Linked DNA regions of Homo sapiens. The protein of the gene in region 4 interacts with the protein of the main gene of each other region in a biochemical or structural test. Each region holds a gene or a part of one and is shown on either strand. Other genes may lie near its edges. The genes, in order: TERT, ECD, STOM, RUVBL1 and NUFIP1.

What was found.
Region 1: the proteins of RUVBL1 (region 4) and TERT form a complex in vitro, tested with the Homo sapiens proteins (one study listed by BioGRID and IntAct).
Region 2: the proteins of RUVBL1 (region 4) and ECD form a complex in vitro, tested with the Homo sapiens proteins (one study listed by BioGRID).
Region 3: the proteins of RUVBL1 (region 4) and STOM form a complex in vitro, tested with the Homo sapiens proteins (one study listed by BioGRID).
Region 5: the proteins of RUVBL1 (region 4) and NUFIP1 form a complex in vitro, tested with the Homo sapiens proteins (one study listed by BioGRID).

The regions. Positions count from the first base shown.
Region 1 is NC_000005.10:1,281,561-1,285,079, reverse strand, and holds part of TERT (telomerase reverse transcriptase), read left to right. Parts: intron 1-2,455; coding exon 2,456-2,651; intron 2,652-3,519. UniProt on the Homo sapiens protein: Telomerase is a ribonucleoprotein enzyme essential for the replication of chromosome termini in most eukaryotes. Active in progenitor and cancer cells. Inactive, or very low activity, in normal somatic cells.
Region 2 is NC_000010.11:73,161,509-73,165,027, reverse strand, and holds part of ECD (protein ecdysoneless homolog), read left to right. Parts: intron 1-1,077; 5' UTR 1,078-1,090; coding exon 1,091-1,295; intron 1,296-3,519. UniProt on the Homo sapiens protein: Regulator of p53/TP53 stability and function. Inhibits MDM2-mediated degradation of p53/TP53 possibly by cooperating in part with TXNIP. May be involved transcriptional regulation. In vitro has intrinsic transactivation activity enhanced by EP300.
Region 3 is NC_000009.12:121,356,733-121,360,251, reverse strand, and holds part of STOM (stomatin), read left to right. Parts: intron 1-3,519. UniProt on the Homo sapiens protein: Regulates ion channel activity and transmembrane ion transport. Regulates ASIC2 and ASIC3 channel activity.
Region 4 is NC_000003.12:128,092,809-128,096,327, reverse strand, and holds part of RUVBL1 (ruvB-like 1), read left to right. Parts: intron 1-3,519. UniProt on the Homo sapiens protein: Possesses single-stranded DNA-stimulated ATPase and ATP-dependent DNA helicase (3' to 5') activity; hexamerization is thought to be critical for ATP hydrolysis and adjacent subunits in the ring-like structure contribute to the ATPase activity.
Region 5 is NC_000013.11:44,982,968-44,986,486, reverse strand, and holds part of NUFIP1 (FMR1-interacting protein NUFIP1), read left to right. Parts: intron 1-3,519. UniProt on the Homo sapiens protein: Binds RNA.

The DNA.
Region 1 (3,519 bases), on a different chromosome or scaffold from region 4:
CAGGTCAGGGGTGAGGTCTCCAGGCCCTCGGTGAGCTGGAGGTATGGAGTCCGGATGATGCAGGTCCGGGGTGAGGTCGCCAGGCCCTGCTGTGAGCTGGATGTGTGGTGTCTGGATGGTGCAGGTCTGGGGTGAGGTCACCAGGCCCTGCGGTGAGCTGGGTGTGCGGTGTCTGGATGGTGCAGGTCTGGAGTGAGGTCGCCAGACGGTGCCAGACCGTGCGGTGAGCTGGATATGCGGTGTCCGGATGGTGCAGGTCTGGGGTGAGGTTGCCAGGCCCTGCTGTGAGTTGGATGTGGGGTGTCCGGATGCTGCAGGTCCGGTGTGAGGTCACCAGGCCCTGCTGTGAGCTGGATGTGTGGTGTCTGGATGGTGCAGGTCTGGGGTGAGGTCGCCAGGCCCTGCTGTGAGCTGGATGTGTGGTGTCTGGATGGTGCAGGTCTGGAGTGAGGTCGCCAGGCCCTCGGTGAGCTGGATGTGCAGTGTCCAGATGGTGCAGGTCCGGGGTGAGGTCGCCAGACCCTGCGGTGAGCTGGATGTGCGGTGTCTGGATGGTGCAGGTCTGGAGTGAGGTCGCCAGGCCCTCGGTGAGCTGGATGTATGGAGTCCGGATGGTGCCGGTCCGGGGTGAGGTCGCCAGACCCTGCTGTGAGCTGGATATGCGGTGTCCGGATGGTGCAGGTCAGGGGTGAGGTCTCCAGGCCCTCGGTGAGCTGGAGGTATGGAGTCCGGATGATGCAGGTCCGGGGTGAGGTCGCCAGGCCCTGCTGTGAGCTGGATGTGCGGCGTCTGGATGGTGCAGGTCTGGGGTGTGGTCGCCAGGCCCTCGGTGAGCTGGAGGTATGGAGTCCGGATGATGCAGGTCCGGGGTGAGGTCGCCAGGCCCTGCTGTGAGCTGGATGTGCGGCGTCTGGATGGTGCAGGTCTGGGGTGTGGTCGCCAGGCCCTCGGTGAGCTGGAGGTATGGAGTCCGGATGATGCAGGTCCGGGGTGAGGTTGCCAGGCCCTGCTGTGAGCTGGATGTGCTGTATCCGGATGGTGCAGGTCCGGGGTGAGGTCGCCAGGCCCTGCTGTGAGCTGGATGTGCTGTATCCGGATGGTGCAGGTCTGGGGTGAGGTCACCAGGCCCTGCGGTGAGCTGGTTGTGCAGTGTCCGGTTGCTGCAGGTCCGGGGTGAGTTCGCCAGGCCCTCGGTGAGCTGGATGTGCGGTGTCCCCGTGTCCGGATGGTGCAGGTCCAGGGTGAGGTCGCTAGGCCCTTGGTGGGCTGGATGTGCCGTGTCCGGATGGTGCAGGTCTGGGGTGAGGTCGCCAGGCCTTTGGTGAGCTGGATGTGCGGTGTCTGCATGGTGCATGTCTGGGGTGAGGTCGCCAGGCCCTTGGTGGGCTGGATGTGTGGTGTCCGGATGGTGCAGGTCCGGCGTGAGGTCGCCAGGCCCTGCTGTGAGCTGGATGTGCGGTGTCTGGATGGTGCAGGTCCGGGGTGAGGTAGCCAAGGCCTTCGGTGAGCTGGATGTGGGGTGTCCGGATGGTGCAGGTCCGGGGTGAGGTCGCCAGGCCCTGCGGTTAGCTGGATATGCGGTGTCCGGATGGTGCAGGTCCGGGGTGAGGTCACCAGGCCCTGCGGTTAGCTGGATGTGCGGTGTCTGGATGGTGCAGGTCCGGGGTGAGGTCGCCAGGCCCTGCTGTGAGCTGGATGTGCTGTATCCAGATGGTGCAGGTCCGGGGTGAGGTCGCCAGGCCCTGCAGTGAGCTGGATGTGCTGTATCCGGATGGTGCAGGTCTGGCGTGAGGTCGCCAGGCCCTGCGGTTAGCTGGATATGCGGTGTCGGATGGTGCAGGTCCGGGGTGAGGTCACCAGGCCCTGCGGTTAGCTGGATGTGTGGTGTCCGGATGGTGCAGGTCTGGGGTGAGGTCGCCAGGCCCTGCTGTGAGCTGGATGTGCTGTATCCGGATGGTGCAGGTCCGGGGTGAGGTCGCCAGGCCCTGCGGTGAGCTGGATGTGCTGTATCCGGATGGTGCAGGTCTGGCGTGAGGTCGCCAGGCCCTGCGGTGAGCTGGATGTGCAGTGTACGGATGGTGCAGGTCCGGAGTGAGGTCGCCAGGCCCTGCGGTGGGCTGTATGTGTGTTGTCTGGATGGTGCAGGTCCGGGGTGAGTTCGCCAGGCCCTGCGGTGAGCTGGATGTGTGGTGTCTGGATGCTGCAGGTCCGGGGTGAGTTCGCCAGGCCCTCGGTGAGCTGGATATGCGGTGTCCCCGTGTCCGAATGGTGCAGGTCCAGGGTGAGGTCGCCAGGCCCTTGGTGGGCTGGATGTGCCGTGTCCGGATGGTGCAGGTCTGGGGTGAGGTCGCCAGGCCCTTGGTGAGCTGGATGTGCGGTGTCCGGATGGTGCAGGTCCGGGGTGAGGTCACCAGGCCCTCGGTGATCTGGATGTGGCATGTCCTTCTCGTTTAAGGGGTTGGCTGTGTTCCGGCCGCAGAGCACCGTCTGCGTGAGGAGATCCTGGCCAAGTTCCTGCACTGGCTGATGAGTGTGTACGTCGTCGAGCTGCTCAGGTCTTTCTTTTATGTCACGGAGACCACGTTTCAAAAGAACAGGCTCTTTTTCTACCGGAAGAGTGTCTGGAGCAAGTTGCAAAGCATTGGAATCAGGTACTGTATCCCCACGCCAGGCCTCTGCTTCTCGAAGTCCTGGAACACCAGCCCGGCCTCAGCATGCGCCTGTCTCCACTTGCCTGTGCTTCCCTGGCTGTGCAGCTCTGGGCTGGGAGCCAGGGGCCCCGTCACAGGCCTGGTCCAAGTGGATTCTGTGCAAGGCTCTGACTGCCTGGAGCTCACGTTCTCTTACTTGTAAAATCAGGAGTTTGTGCCAAGTGGTCTCTAGGGTTTGTAAAGCAGAAGGGATTTAAATTAGATGGAAACACTACCACTAGCCTCCTTGCCTTTCCCTGGGATGTGGGTCTGATTCTCTCTCTCTTTTTTTTTTCTTTTTTGAGATGGAGTCTCACTCTGTTGCCCAGGCTGGAGTGCAGTGGCATAATCTTGGCTCACTGCAACCTCCACCTCCTGGGTTTAAGCGATTCACCAGCCTCAGCCTCCTAAGTAGCTGGGATTACAGGCACCTGCCACCACGCCTGGCTAATTTTTGTACTTTTAGGAGAGACGGGGTTTCACCATGTTGGCCAGGCTGGTCTCGAACTCATGACCTCAGGTGATCCACCCACCTTGGCCTCCCAAAGTGCTGGGTTTACAGGCTAAGCCACCGTGCCCAGCCCCCGATTCTCTTTTAATTCATGCTGTTCTGTATGAATCTTCAATCTATTGGATTTAGGTCATGAGAGGATAAAATCCCACCCACTTGGCGACTCACTGCAGGGAGCACCTGTGCAGGGAGCACCTGGGGATAGGAGAGTTCCACCATGAGCTAACTTCTAGGTGGCTGCATTTGAATGGCTGTGAGATTTTGTCTGCAATGTTCGGCTGATGAGAGTGTGAGATTGTGACAGATTCAAGCTGGATT
Region 2 (3,519 bases), on a different chromosome or scaffold from region 4:
TTTTGATAGTATGTAAACAGTAGGTGTTAGTGCAGTGTTTCTCGAAATATATTACACATACCACTGCTAGTACAAGGGCAAACATTAAAAATTTCATTCTTCACTTCCAAAATAGGAAAAATATAAAAAGTAAAGATTTTATTCTTACATACTTACTAATTGGGGAATGTGATACTAGATTTCTATTCACTGTATTATATCAAGGTTTCCTTTTAACGTAATTTTAAAGATAAAGTTTTAAGTGTAAAGGGTCATTAAAAATAATATTAGGCCAGATGCCTATAACCCCAGCACTTTGGGAGACCAAGGTGGAAGAACTGCTTGAGCTCAGAAGTTCTAGGCCAGCCTGGGCAATATGGCAAAACCTTGCCTCTACTAAAAATACAAAAAAAGTTAGCTGGGCATGGTGGCATGCACCTGTGGTCCCAGCTACTTGGGAGGCTGAGGTGGGAGGATGGCTTGAGCCCAAGAGGTGGAGGTTGCAATGAGCTGTGATCATGCCGCTGCACTCCAGCCTGGGCAACAAGAGTGAAACTCCATCTCAAATAAATAAATAAAGTTTAAAAAAATTAAATAAATATTACTGTAGGTGGTGTATGGTTAAGGCCAAAACCATGGTGATGGTATGTGACTAAATTTTATTTTTTTATTTTTTATTTTTATTTATTTTTTTTTTTAGTTGGAGTCTTGCTCTGTCACCCAAGCTGGAGTGCAGTGGCATGATCTCGGCTCATTGCAACCTCTGCCTCCTAGGTTCAAGTGATTCTCCTGCTTTAGCCTCCCAAGTAGCTAGGATCACAGGTGCATGCCACCACACCCAGCTAATTTTTGTATTTTTAGTATTTTGTATTTTTAGTAGAGACGGGGTTTCACCATGTTGGCCAGGCTGGTCTCAAACTCCTGACCTCCAGTGATCTGCCTGTCTCGGCCTCCCAAAGTGATAGGATTACATGCATGAACCACTGTGCCCGGCCTAACTAAATTTTAGAAAACAGTGTTCATAGAACCATCTAAAAGAGTTCAGATGTTACTTCTGCATTGTTCTATGTGGTTTATATTTTGGAACTTTAAACATAGTTTTCAAAGAAGAATGGAAGAAACCATGAAGCTTGCTACGATGGAAGACACAGTGGAGTACTGCCTGTTCCTGATACCAGATGAGTCAAGGGACTCAGATAAACATAAAGAGATTCTTCAGAAGTACATTGAGAGAATAATCACTCGGTTTGCACCTATGCTGGTCCCCTACATCTGGCAGAATCAGCCTTTCAATCTTAAATATAAACCTGGGAAAGGTAAGGCTCTTTTACTTGTTTGGATTAGTGTGACTTTTAATGTTATCCTGACAACAGTGATGTGTAATAGTCCACGCTTCATTCAGTGTTGCCAGGAAGAGATTAATACACTAAACTTTTTAGATGAGTAATACTTGTCTATATTCAGTTAGCCTTAAAGCTTTTTTTTAAAAAAAATCATATTAATGAAAACTTTCTAAATTTGCCTTAGGAATTAGCATATACTAAACATTATTAAACTCATGGCTATTCTTTTGAACTTTAGTTACTACACTATGCCATAATGTATCTAAGTATCTATACTAAATAGTTTCAGGCATCTGGCTTTAATCATGGTTCCTTTTGCTGTTACTCAGGATTCCTTATTTTGGTGATGTGTTTGGTAGGCTGCCTTGTTTCATATAGCCATTTTGGTGAGGATCTGAGTGGCTCTGCCCAGCTTATAAAGATAAATAATTGGGCTTTATGACTAATATTTGCCACTTACAAGCATTTTGAGGTTTCTTCATTGCTTCCCTGTGTTGTTGGTGCTTGAGATCTGACCTCTGGCAAAATATGGCACTCTGTCCTGTTATGAGAAAAACCCAGGATTAAACTAGGAGGGAGCGGAGAGACCAAAGAATGACTCGGACAGGTCTATCTTGGCAAGTAGATGAGTTTATTAGGACTTACAGACAAGACACTCCTGGGCAGCATCAGGACAGCTCTAGAAATCCACCCCACCTCCCATATTTAAGTTGCTAGTAAGCTAATTTTTTGGCTCTTTGCCTACTGCGTATATGCAATGACACTGTTTTCCTTGGTATGTTCCCAGCTATGCCCTGCAATGTTTGGGTTCTCAGGACCTGCTCCTCTGCTAGGCATGATGGCTTTGGCTTGCCAGCTGGCCTTTGAAGTTTAAGCAGCAGACATATACCCTTAAGTAGTCTGGTGGGGAACTGGTCACATTACAGTTCTATCATTTCTTATAGTTTTATGAAAATAAATCATGGGTAGGTGACCAAGTCTCTCCTTACACAGTGACTTATGTGAGGTCTTATTTGGGATCAGGAGCCTGGCATCTTGTGATACCATCACAAGATATACCCCCCATGTATACATCACAAGTATACATCACTGTGATACTCTCAGTTTAGTGCGTATCTGTTATCTTTTGGCAACAATTGCTACATATCTTACTGTTAATTTTATTGAACTCTTATTCATTGAAATACATATGATATTTATTGGCAAGAACACTGTCACATTGGTGTAGCACATCTAAAACCAACCCTTTATCCATCCTCTAGAAAACCATTTTTACTGTTTTCTTATCTTGTTTAATGGCATTGCCATCCACCCAGTTATCCAAGCTAGTCAGTAATTCAAAATCATAATCAGTTCCTCACTTCACCATGTTCAGTCAGATGCTAAATCCTGAATGCTTCTAAAATATGACCCCTTCTCTACATCTATTTGGCTTCAGTGTAGACCCTCTTTATCTCTACATCTGGAAAACAACAACAGCCTCCTAACTTACCTCTCTGGTTCCTGTCTTTCTAGTTCCTAACACTGTTGCTGGTTATGTTTGTAAAACACAAATTTGATTGTGTCACTCTCCTGCTTAATATCCTTCAGTAGTTCCCATTGCTTCAAGATGAAATTTAAATCAAAGTCTAATATAGACAAAAATAGTTACTTTAATTGGAGTTCTCTAGTTGAAGAAACTTGAGATCTGGGGTGGGGAGAAGAAGAGTTGGTTGGGCTGTTCTTCTACCTATTGTTTGCCATGGCAGCTCTTGAGACACTCTGTAATGCACTTGTTTGACCTTCATTCTGTTAATGTGGGATATTAACTGTACATTGATTTTCGTGTGTTGAACCATCCTTGCATCCCAGGAATAAATCTCGCTTGGTCGTGGTGAATAATCTATTTAATGTGTTGTTGAATTCAGATTGCTGATATTTTGTTAAGGATTTCTGCATTGATACTCATCAGGGATATTGATCTACAGCTTTCTCATATTGTCTTTGTCTGGCTTTGGTATTAGGGTAATGCTGGCCTCAGAAGGAATTTGGGAATTCCCTCCCTTTTATTTTTTTGGAAGATTTTGAGGAGGATTGGTGTCAAATTCTTTAAATGTTTGGAAGAATTCCCCGGTGAAGCCAGCTTTTCTTTGTTAGGAGCTTTTGGATTATTGATTCAATCTCCTTACTAGTTATAGATCTGTTCAGATTTTTGTAT
Region 3 (3,519 bases), on a different chromosome or scaffold from region 4:
TTTTCAAAAAATGCTATCGAGATTCAAAGGAAAGAAAAAGACATATCTAGCTAGAAAACTTGCTGAGAAGTATTTTATTTTATATCTATTCTACTATGCAGGATACTGTGCTAGACATTGAGAATATAAAAGTGAATAAGCAACATCCCTGCCCTCAGGGAGTTTTTACTCTAGTATGTTATGGGAGACTTGGACAGTATTTGAAAAGGCACCAAATGCTGTCAGATAAATAAGTATTTGTGGTCAGTCTGTCCTTGTTTGGAATTCATTTCACCCTGGAAACCTAGACCTGTGTCTGTCACAGAGCCTTGAAACTATCTTTTGCTATAAATAGGCATGGCTGGCATTAAGAGGACTTCCTCTGTAAAAATATCAGATTTCATTCTCACAACTCCAGCCATGCTTTTCAGTTTGGATACTGTCTTGAGAAAGTGCTCAACCACGAAAACATTCTTAATGAGGATTTTTTTTATTGAGGGGTGAATTTGGAACACGGGCTTTGGAGTAAGATGACCCATATTTGAGTCCCAGGTCTTCCATTGTGTGACTTTGGGAAAGTTAAATGTTGCTTTAGGTAACTCATTTGTAAAAGGGATTTAAAAATACCCTCACAGGGCTGTTGTAAGAGTTAAATGAGATACATGTCTAAAGTAACTTTAAAAAATGCCTGGGGTATACACAACCCCTCAAAACAGCCACTGTTGCTATGATCAGTCATGGTAATACTAGATAAAGCTTTCTTCACAAACAGTACTATGGCCCTGCTTTGAATATTCTCTCAATGAATATGTCTGTACCCCCTAAATTATAACTTAGAAACCTCCAGGATTACTTTAGATCATTTTATTTAAGTATACATGAAGACATTTACCTCACACTATAACACAGGATCAGAAAACTACCAAGTCACATACAACCCAAGTACTCACTATATTTCTGATTTTTCATCCTATGTTTTAGAGCACTTGACCTGGGTGCCAACATGTGTCTCTCTTCTCCCATGTTCCCAGCCTGAACACTCTGCTTATTTCTTGGCCTCCTATTTATTCCAAGCCCCATCTTACTGCCATTTTGCCCTTTCTTCTGAGCAGTAACATGTGCCTGGCATACCTTTTCTCCCCTCTGTCATTAAAATAGCTCCTGAAAATACAGCAGAAGCCTTCCAAGTGGTTGATAAGAAAACCTACTATATCCCTTGGCCTTCTCAGTCCCTATGTCCTCTACAGAAAGCAAAAGCAAACTAAAAATGAGGATGACACTTGATACAGAAAATAGGAACACAACACTGAGGTGATGGGAGTTCCCAGGATGATAGTGAAAGCAATTGCAGAATGATAGCCGTGCACACCAGATGAAGGAAGTCCACACAAGGCTCTGAGAGAGAATTCTTCCAGAAGATAAAATTGATAGTATACCTGACCTCTTTGAGAGGAAATTTAGGCAATTGATTTAAGGTTGGATCAATAAGTACGTTGAAAACCGAACAAAGGGAAAAAATAAGACAGTAATTCCAGAAAAAACAAAAATAGTACAGGAAGAGAAAACCAGTGATACCTCACTACTTGGCTTAGCTTTAAATTGCACTTACAAATTCATAATATAAAATCTCATATTGATCTAAATGAAGTTATGATGTAATTATATTGGAAAGCTGGGTATAAGTATGTGGTGGGGGTAACGGGGAGGAAAGAGAACTAAATCTTTTTCTGTAGTAGAAAGTTAATAGTCCTCAAAACTGAAAAAGCAAGAAGTAACAAAACAAGCATTTCCTTCCTTCCTTCCTTCCTTTTCTTTCTTTCTTTCTTTCCTCACTTTGTTGTCCAGGCTGGGGTACATCACAGCTCACTGCAGCCACGAACCCCCAGGCTCAAGCAATCCCCCTATTTCAGTCTCCTCAGTAGCTGGGACTACAGGTGTGTGCCACCACACACAGCTAATTTTTTTTAAGAAGTTTCAAGTAGAGATGGGAGTCTCACTAGGTTGCCCATGCTGGTCTCAAACTCCTGAGCTCAAGCAATCCTCCCATCTCGGCCTCCCAAAGTGCTGGGATTACAGGCGTGAGCCACCATGCCTGGCAGAAGCATATTATTATTATTATTTTTTTTTTTTTTAAAGTAGAGACAGAGTCTCCCTATGTTGCCCAAGCTAGTCTCAAACCCCTGGGCTCAAGGGATCCTCCCTCCTCAGCCTCCCAAAGTGCTGGGATTACAGGTGTGACCCCTGCACCCAGCTGCAAAGCGTATTATTTAGAAATATGGAGGTAGATATCAAAATGGTCAAAATAGCAAATGTTTTTGAGGAGGAGGAAATTGGAAGAGGTGAGCATGGGAATGCCCTTTTTTTGTACTAATCATATAGAATGGTTTGACTTTTTAAACTTTATGCAAGTGTAACTTCAAAAACACAAATGCATAACCACGAAGGCCAAAAAAGAAGGTGAAAGAGAATAGCTACAGGGAAGAAAAATAGGTTACACATTTTATTTATTTATTTATTTTTAAAAATATGATTTAAGGCCGGGCGCAGTGGCTTATGCCTGTAATCCCAGCACTTTGGAAGGCCATGGTGGGCAGATCACTTGACGTCAGGAGTTCGAGGCCAGCCTGGCCAACATGGTGAAACCCCATCTGTACTAAATACAAAAAGTAGCCGGGTGTGGTGGCAGGTGGCTGTAATCCCAGCTACTCAGGAGATTGAGACGGGAGAATCGCATGATCCCAGGAGGTGGAGGTTGCAGTGAGGTGAGACTGTGCTGCTGCACTCCAGCCTGGGCAACAGAGCAAGACTCTGTCTCAAAAAATAAATAAATAAATATATATATATATATCATTTAAAAATATGGTGTGTACACTAGGAAAATTTTCAAAGAATATACCAAAATACCTCTGAATTTAAAGTAATTTTTCCCTCCTTTGTTATACTTCTGTGAATTTTTTGCATTATTACCTTTGTAATCAGACGGAAAAGCTGTTGCATATTACAGGAACAGGAAACAATTAGAAATGTGAGAGGAAAGCCGTGTACAAAGATGTTCACTACAACACTGTTTATAGCACTAAGAAATCAAACAACCTGTGTAATCAGGAAGTGGGCAATAAATGATGCTGCATAAACCTAGTGAAATATTTTACAGGTGTAATTTTTAAAAAGAGGCTCTAAACAACTTTATACTCATATCATATGGTTTTCACCTTTATTCGTACTGTACTCCTAGCTAAAATGCTCTAATGCCTTTTCCCTCTTTCCTTTTTCTTTTCTTTTCTTTTCTTTTGACAGATTCTTCCTCTGTTGCCCAGGCTGGAGTGCAGTGGTACAATCTTGGCTCACTGCAACCTCCACCTCCTGGGTTCATGCAATTCTCCTGCCTCAGCCTTCCCAGTAGCTGGGATTACAGGCACTCACCACAACGCCTAGCTAATTTTTGTATTTTTAGTAGAGACGGGGTTTTATCATGTTGATCAGGCTGGTCTTGAACTCTTGACCTCAAGTGATCCACCTGTCTCGGCCTCCCAAAGTGCT
Region 4 (3,519 bases):
CGTGGTCCTGGAGAACACCCCATCTTCCCATCTCTCAAGCCCAGTGTCAGTATTCCCAGTACCTGGTAGTTTTATTGCTCTTTTGGTTTTCTGTGATCTTGTTTAAACATTAGTGCCTGGTCTCTGCAGTGCTGGGGGCACAAAGGTGGGTGATGAGGGGCCTGTTTTCAAGCCTGCAATAGAGTAGTGTGGGGACAAAGTCCCTGAGGCTGCATGCTCAGGGCAGTGGAGGCAGTGGGAGTTAGAAAGACACCCTGTGGCCCATGAGTATCTCAGGACACAGCTGGAGCCAAACTGAGTTTGAAATAAAAACTGCTGATTTGCCTAACTCAGCTCTGAATGATGGTGGGCCCTATCTAAGATTTTAGTTTGCTTTTAATAGAGAAGCTTTATTATTAAGACTGTCCAAGCTGGGCACAGTGGTATGCACCTGTAGTGTACTCTCTGGGAGGCTGAGGCGGGAAGATTGCTTGAGGCTAGGAGTTTAAGGTTGTAGTGTGCAATGATTGCACCTGTGAATAGCTATCGCACTCCCACCTGGACAACAGTGAGACCTCATCTCTAAAAATAATTAAAAAAAAACAAAACATGCAAACTCTGGTGTTGCTGGCTCTGGGTAAGCCCCACAATGGGGGTTCTGTAGTGCTGTGAGCACTGCAGTATAGCAACAGCCCTTCCCCCTCAGGCGGTTTCTTTCACTTGCAATTAGGAATCGAATGCGTGATTCAAGTCCATGTGGCAGCATCTTGTAGCTACTCTGAATCCCCGTCCGTGATGCTCTCTAGACAAGACCACTGTCATAAGTGCTTCCTAAGTCTTGGAGAGAAAGTGTGTGCCAGATCCAGCATGGCTACTTGGGCAGCTTCTGGAGACAGATGCATGTGGGCCTTATGGCTGGTATGCCTGGCATGCCTGTGGCTGTCTGGACTTGCTTAGCCTTGGCTAGGCCAGGCTGAAGCCTGACAGTGCAGTTGGTGAAAGGGCTCAGCCTTGGACAGATGGTGCCCCCTGCTGGGGAGCTCTGCTAATAGGCTTCCCTCCCTCCACAGTAGGGAACCCAGCCCAGCCCATACCTGCAGAGCCTGGCATCTCTCGTCTCAGAAGTAAGGTCTCTCAGTCCCATCCCACTCAGGACTAAGGTGCACAGAAAGGTGGCCTTGATCTCAGAACCTGCTCAGTGGAGACAAAGCTCTGGTCAGCCTGAGACCCGGGAGATTTGGCCCCAGCCCCATCTGGGCTGATTTGATCAAGGGCTGCTAGAGGTTGTGGAGACTCCTTGCTAGACTGTAGTTACTCAAGTGGAAGGAAGACACTCAGAACATGGATTTTTAGGCAGGTCGGCTCAGGTAACGCAGATTCGGTTGTTTGCTTTGGAAGAGAATTTTGGCACTATGTTCTAGTAGGAAATTTGTTGTAGTGGTGATAATAATGTCAACATGGTAATGAAAAAAGTAATAGCCAACAATAATAGCCATCTGATATGCTTCCCACAGACTCCACCCCTAGAGGGGAACTACAGGGCTTCCTTACCCCCCAGAACCACATCTGATCTCTAGAGCTCCGAAGGAAAGAGAGGGGGAAGGGAGGTGACTAACTGAGGGCTTCCTGTGTGTCAGAAACTATACAGAGCACTCTACATGGGCCATCTCATGTCCTCCCAGGACACCCTGACAACCCTGTGAGCAGTTGAGGTTATCTCCAGACTCAAATGGGAGGTTACCTGCCCAGGCCATAGGCTAGAAAGTGTTGCCACTGGAACCTGAGCCCAGAGGAACGTCTGGGTCCAAACTCCATGCTCTCACTGCTCTCCCACACCGCTTCCCAGTGGACCCTGGGCTGTGAGCGGGGATGGAGCTTTGACGGGGTGCTGCCTGGAGGTGGCAGTGGGGAACTGTTGGATGCTGACAACAGATTGCCGTGAAAATGCAGCCTCCTAGGAGTGTTCTTTCCCAGGTAGTGTACGCTCCCTCTCGGCTTCTTGCCGCTCACCCCTCCCTGTGTAAATGACCCTTGTGGATTGAGCCTCAGAAGTGAGCCCACTCTCTGATGGCCATTGTGTTTTATGGAGCATGCATTTCAGCACAAGCCTGGTTCCCACATGGAAAAATTACAGGCATTGGAGTCACGTGGAAGCTCATGACCCAGGCGAGTTCCTTGACCTCTCTGAATCTTACCATCCTCATCAGGAAATGGGAATATCAGCACCTTTTTTGCAGAATTATGTGAAGAGTAGAAAAAGTGAGTGCAAAGTTATCACCCAGGCCAGCCCTAGAGTATTGCCCTCTTGGAAGCTGATTTCATGCCCCTGCCTGGTCTGCTCTGTGGACATGGCTTGGCCTCAGGGATCTCTGAGAACCCAGCAAGGCATGAAGCCTCTTCATAGCCCCTCCTGACCTTGACAAGCAGCCCCCAAGTCCTTTAGGTCACCTCTCCCTGTGGACAGCTGATGTGGGAGCCGTTCTAGAAGAAGCACCTGTCCCTGGTCCTCTTGATGCTCCAGGCTCCTTCTGGGAAGGGTCCATCCATGGATGACAGGGAGGCAAAGCTCTGTTGCCTTCTTGCCTGGCTCCTCCCTAACTTGCCACCATAAGAAGTCCCTTTCCTTCCAGGCTCAGGATCCTGAACTGTTAGATGAGAGCCCAGCACTGATCCCAGCTTGAAAACTGGGAGATTTTCTCTTCATATTGAGGTATAGCTCCCTGGGATTAGGAGTTCTTGTAGGAGTTTCTCACTGAAAGTCACTTTGTTGCACCAAAACATCAAGACTTAAGAAACAGTATGGACTCTGCTCAGTGTAACCCTGTGGCAGATAGTGTTCCAACAAAAAAAAAAACCAACTTTATGGAGACATAATTCATATAAAATACAGTTTTTTTTTGTGATTTCTAGTGTATTCACAGAGTTGTGCAACCATCACCACGGTCAATTTTAGAACATTTTCATCACCCCAAAAAGAAACTATACCCATCAATAGTCATCGTCCCCTTCTGCACCCTTACCCCCATCCACTGGCAACCATTAATCAATTTTGTCTCTATAGATTTGCTTTTTCTGGAAATTTTGTATAAATAGCACCATATAATCTGGTCTTTTGTGACTGGCTTCTTTCACTTAGCATGATGCTGTAGCATGCGTAGTACTTATTTCTTTTTCCAGCTGAATAGTATTCTATTATATGGAATATTTAATAGTGTATCTTATTTAACCATTCATTAGTTGATGGACATTGGGTTGTTGGGTTATTATGAATAATGGTGCTCTGAACATTTGTGTACAACTTTTTTTTTCTTTCTTTCTTTTTCTTTTTCTTTTTTAAAGTAGAGATGGGGTCTCACTTTGTTGACCAGGCTGGTCTTGAACTCCTGGGCTCCAAGGATCCTCCTGCCTCAGCCTCCCAAACTGCTAGGATTACTGTGAGCTACCACACCTGGCCTATGTACAACATTTTTAAGTGGACATGGTTTTTATTTCTTTCGGTTATGTACCTAGGAGTGGAATTGCTGGGTCCAGTGGTAACTG
Region 5 (3,519 bases), on a different chromosome or scaffold from region 4:
ATCGCCTGACCTCGTGATCCACCCACCTCAGCCTCCCAAAGTGTTGGGATTATAGGCGTGAGCCACTGCGCCTGGCCCCTCCACTTCTAATTGTAGTTCTCTTGCAGTTTCTACTACATCTGAGGTGACTTCCTCCACTGAAGTCTTGAATTCCTCAAAATCGTCTATGAGGGTTGGAATTTCTTCTTTCAAACTCCTGTTAATGTTGATCTTTTGACCTCCTTCCATAAATCATGAATGTTCTTAATGGTATCTTGAATAGTGAATCAAAACCTCCTTTCTAGAAGGTTTTTAATCTACTTTGCTCAGATCCATTAGAGGAATCACTATCTATGAATCACTGTGGATTTCTTTCAAGAACTTTTCATCCAGACACGGTGGCTCACGACTGTAATCCCAGCACTTCAGGAGGGCAGAGCAGGAGGATCCCTTGAGCCCAGGAGTTTGAGGCTGCAATGAGCTATGACTGCACCTTTATATTCCAGCCTGGCTGACAGTGAGACCCTTTCTCAGTAGTTGCATTCACAACTTGGCTAGCCGTTTGGCACAAGAGGCCTGGCTTTTGGCTTGTATCAGCTTTCAACGTGTCTTCCTCACTAAGCTTAATCATTTCTGGCTTTCGATTTAAAATGAGAGACATGTGACTCTTCCTTTTGCTTGAACACTTAGAGACCATGATAGGGTTATTAATTGGCCTACTTTTGAATATTGCGTCTCAGAGGATAGGGAGGCCTGAGGAGAGGGAGAGGAGAACCACCGGTTGGTAGAGCAGTTAGAACATACACAGCATTTATAAAGTTCACCATCTTATATGGCCACGATTCATGGTGTCTCAAAACAATTACAGTAGTAGCATCAAAGATCACTGATCACAGATCAGTATAACAGACGTAATAAAAATGAAAAAGTTTGAAATATTTCGAGAATCACCAAAATGTGACACAAAGACAGCACATTGTTGTTGGAAAAATGGTGCTGATAGACCTGCTTGATGTAGGGTTGCCGCAGACCCTTAGCTTGCAAAAAGCTGTGTAAAACGAAGTGCAGTGAAATGAGATGTGCTTTTATACCTTAAAGGTGGGGACTGCATGATTTACTGAAAGATAGGATATATGGGATGCAAGATAAAGAGGAGAGAAGGATAATTTAAAGTTTTTTTGCCAAACAATTGGAAGGATGGAGTTGCTATTAACTGAGATAGGTAAGAATGTGGATGGAGCAGATTTGGAAGGAAGTCCAGGAATTAAAGTTGGAATATATTTGTGTCAGGTAGAGATATTGAATAGGCTTTTAGCTATTAGTCTACTTTCAGGGGAGATTTGTGGCTGGAGCTATAAATTTGGGTGTTGACACCATATAGATCATATTTCAAGCTACAAGAGTGTTAATTTAAAACCATTCTCCAACTTTGCAGAAAATTCAATTCTGCATTCCATAAAAAATGATGAGTTCATATCCTTTGTAGGGACATGGATGAAATTGGAAGTCATCATTCTCAGTAAACTATTGCAAGGACAGAAAACCAAACACCACATGTTCTCTCTCATAGATGGGAATTGAACAATGAGAACACATGGACACAGGAAGGAGAACATCACACTCTGGGGACTGTTGTGGGGTGGGGGGAACGGGGAGGTATAGCATTAGGAGATATACCTAATGCTAAATGACGAGTTAATGGGTGCAGCACACCAGTATGGCACATGTATACATATGTAACTAACCTGCACATTGTGCACACGTACCCTAAAACTTAAAGTATAATAATAAAAAAAAATTCAATTCTGCATTAAACTGAATCTGAACAATTAGTGTTTTATTTTTATTTTATTTTATTTATTTTTTTAAATAGAGTCTCTTGCTGTCACCCAGGCTAGAGTACAGTGGCACCATCTCGGCTCACTGCAGCCTCCACCTCCTGGGTTCAAGGGATCCTTCTGCCTCAGCCTCCTGAGTAGCTGGGACTACAGGCACGCACTACCACACCTGGCTAATTTTTTGTATTTTTGGTAGAGACTGGGTTTCACCATGTTGGCCAGGCTGGTCTCGAGCTCCTGACCTCAAGTGATCTGCTTGCCTTGGCCTCCCAAAGCACTGGGAATACAGGAATGAGCCATCACACCTGGCCCAAACAGTTAGTGTTTATTGTATGGCAGATGCTGGAAATACGGACTTGGCTGAGTCAGATGAGATATGTTATAAGTATGAATCAAAATACAGTGTGACTGATGATAGAGGCATATAATAGCTGATTTCAGAATGTAGAGGAAATTGGGAAAAGCTTTTGGAAGAAGTGTCTTAGGAGATGTATAGAATTTGGGAAGAGATGTTTCCTAGGTAGAGAAAGAGGTGTCAGTACAAGGCAAGTTCTGGAGATTGCAGGGTTCTGGTGTGACTGAAGCAGAGTATGTGAAAGGTATGGGGAAGGGTAGGGTAAGAAAATAAATTAGAATCTCATGGAAGGTCTCTAGGAAGCTGTCTTAGTCCCTATTGTGCTGCCATAACAGAGTATGACCTGTTGGGTAATATATAATGAACAGAAATTTATTTGGCTCATAGTTCTTGAGGTTATGTCCAAGATCAAGGGGCTGTTGAGGACCTTCTTGCTGCATGGTGACATCAAGAAAGGCATCACATGGTGAGAGAGAGTGAGAGAAGGTCAAACTCATCCTTTATTATTGTTGCTTTTTGAGACAGGGTCTTGTTCTGTGGCCCAGGCTGGAGTGCAGTGGCACATATATGGCTCACTGCAGCCTCAACCTGCTGGGCTCAAGTGATTCTCCCATCTCAGCCTCACAAGTAGCTGGGACTACAGGCACATACCACCAAGCTTGGCTAATTTTTGTATTTTTTGTAGAGACAGAGTTTCGCCAGGCTGCTCAGGCTGATCTCAAACTCTTGGGCTCAAGTGGTCTGCCCGCCTTGGCCTCCCAAAGTGTTGGAATTATAGATGTGAGCCATCATGCCAGCCCCTCCCTCAACTTTTTTTTTTTTTTTATTTGAGACGGGGGGCTGGGTGCGGTGGCTCACGCCTGTAATCCCAGCACTTTGGGAGGCCGAGGCAGGTGGATCACTTGAGGTCAGGAGTTCGAGACCAGCCTGGCCAACATGGTGAAACTCTGTCTCTACTAAAAAATACGAAAATTACCTGAGCATGGTGGCACATGCCTGTAATCCCAGCTACTCGGGAGGCTGAGGCAGGAGAATCGCTTGAACCTGGGAAGCAGAGGTTGCAGTGAGCCAAGATTGTGCCACTGCACTCTAGGCTGGCCAACAAGAGCGAAACTGCATCTCCCCCGCCAAAAAAAATAAAATAAAATAAGAGACAGGGTCAGCTGGGCATGGTGGCTCACGCTTGCAGTCCCAGGACTTTGGAGGCTGAGGCAGGCAGATCGGTTGAGCCCAGGAGTGTGAGATCAGCCTGGGCAACATAGTGAGACCCCATCTCTATACAAAGAATAATTTTTTTAAAAGAGACAGAGACAGGGTCTTGTGCTGTTGCCTAGACTGGAGTGTAGT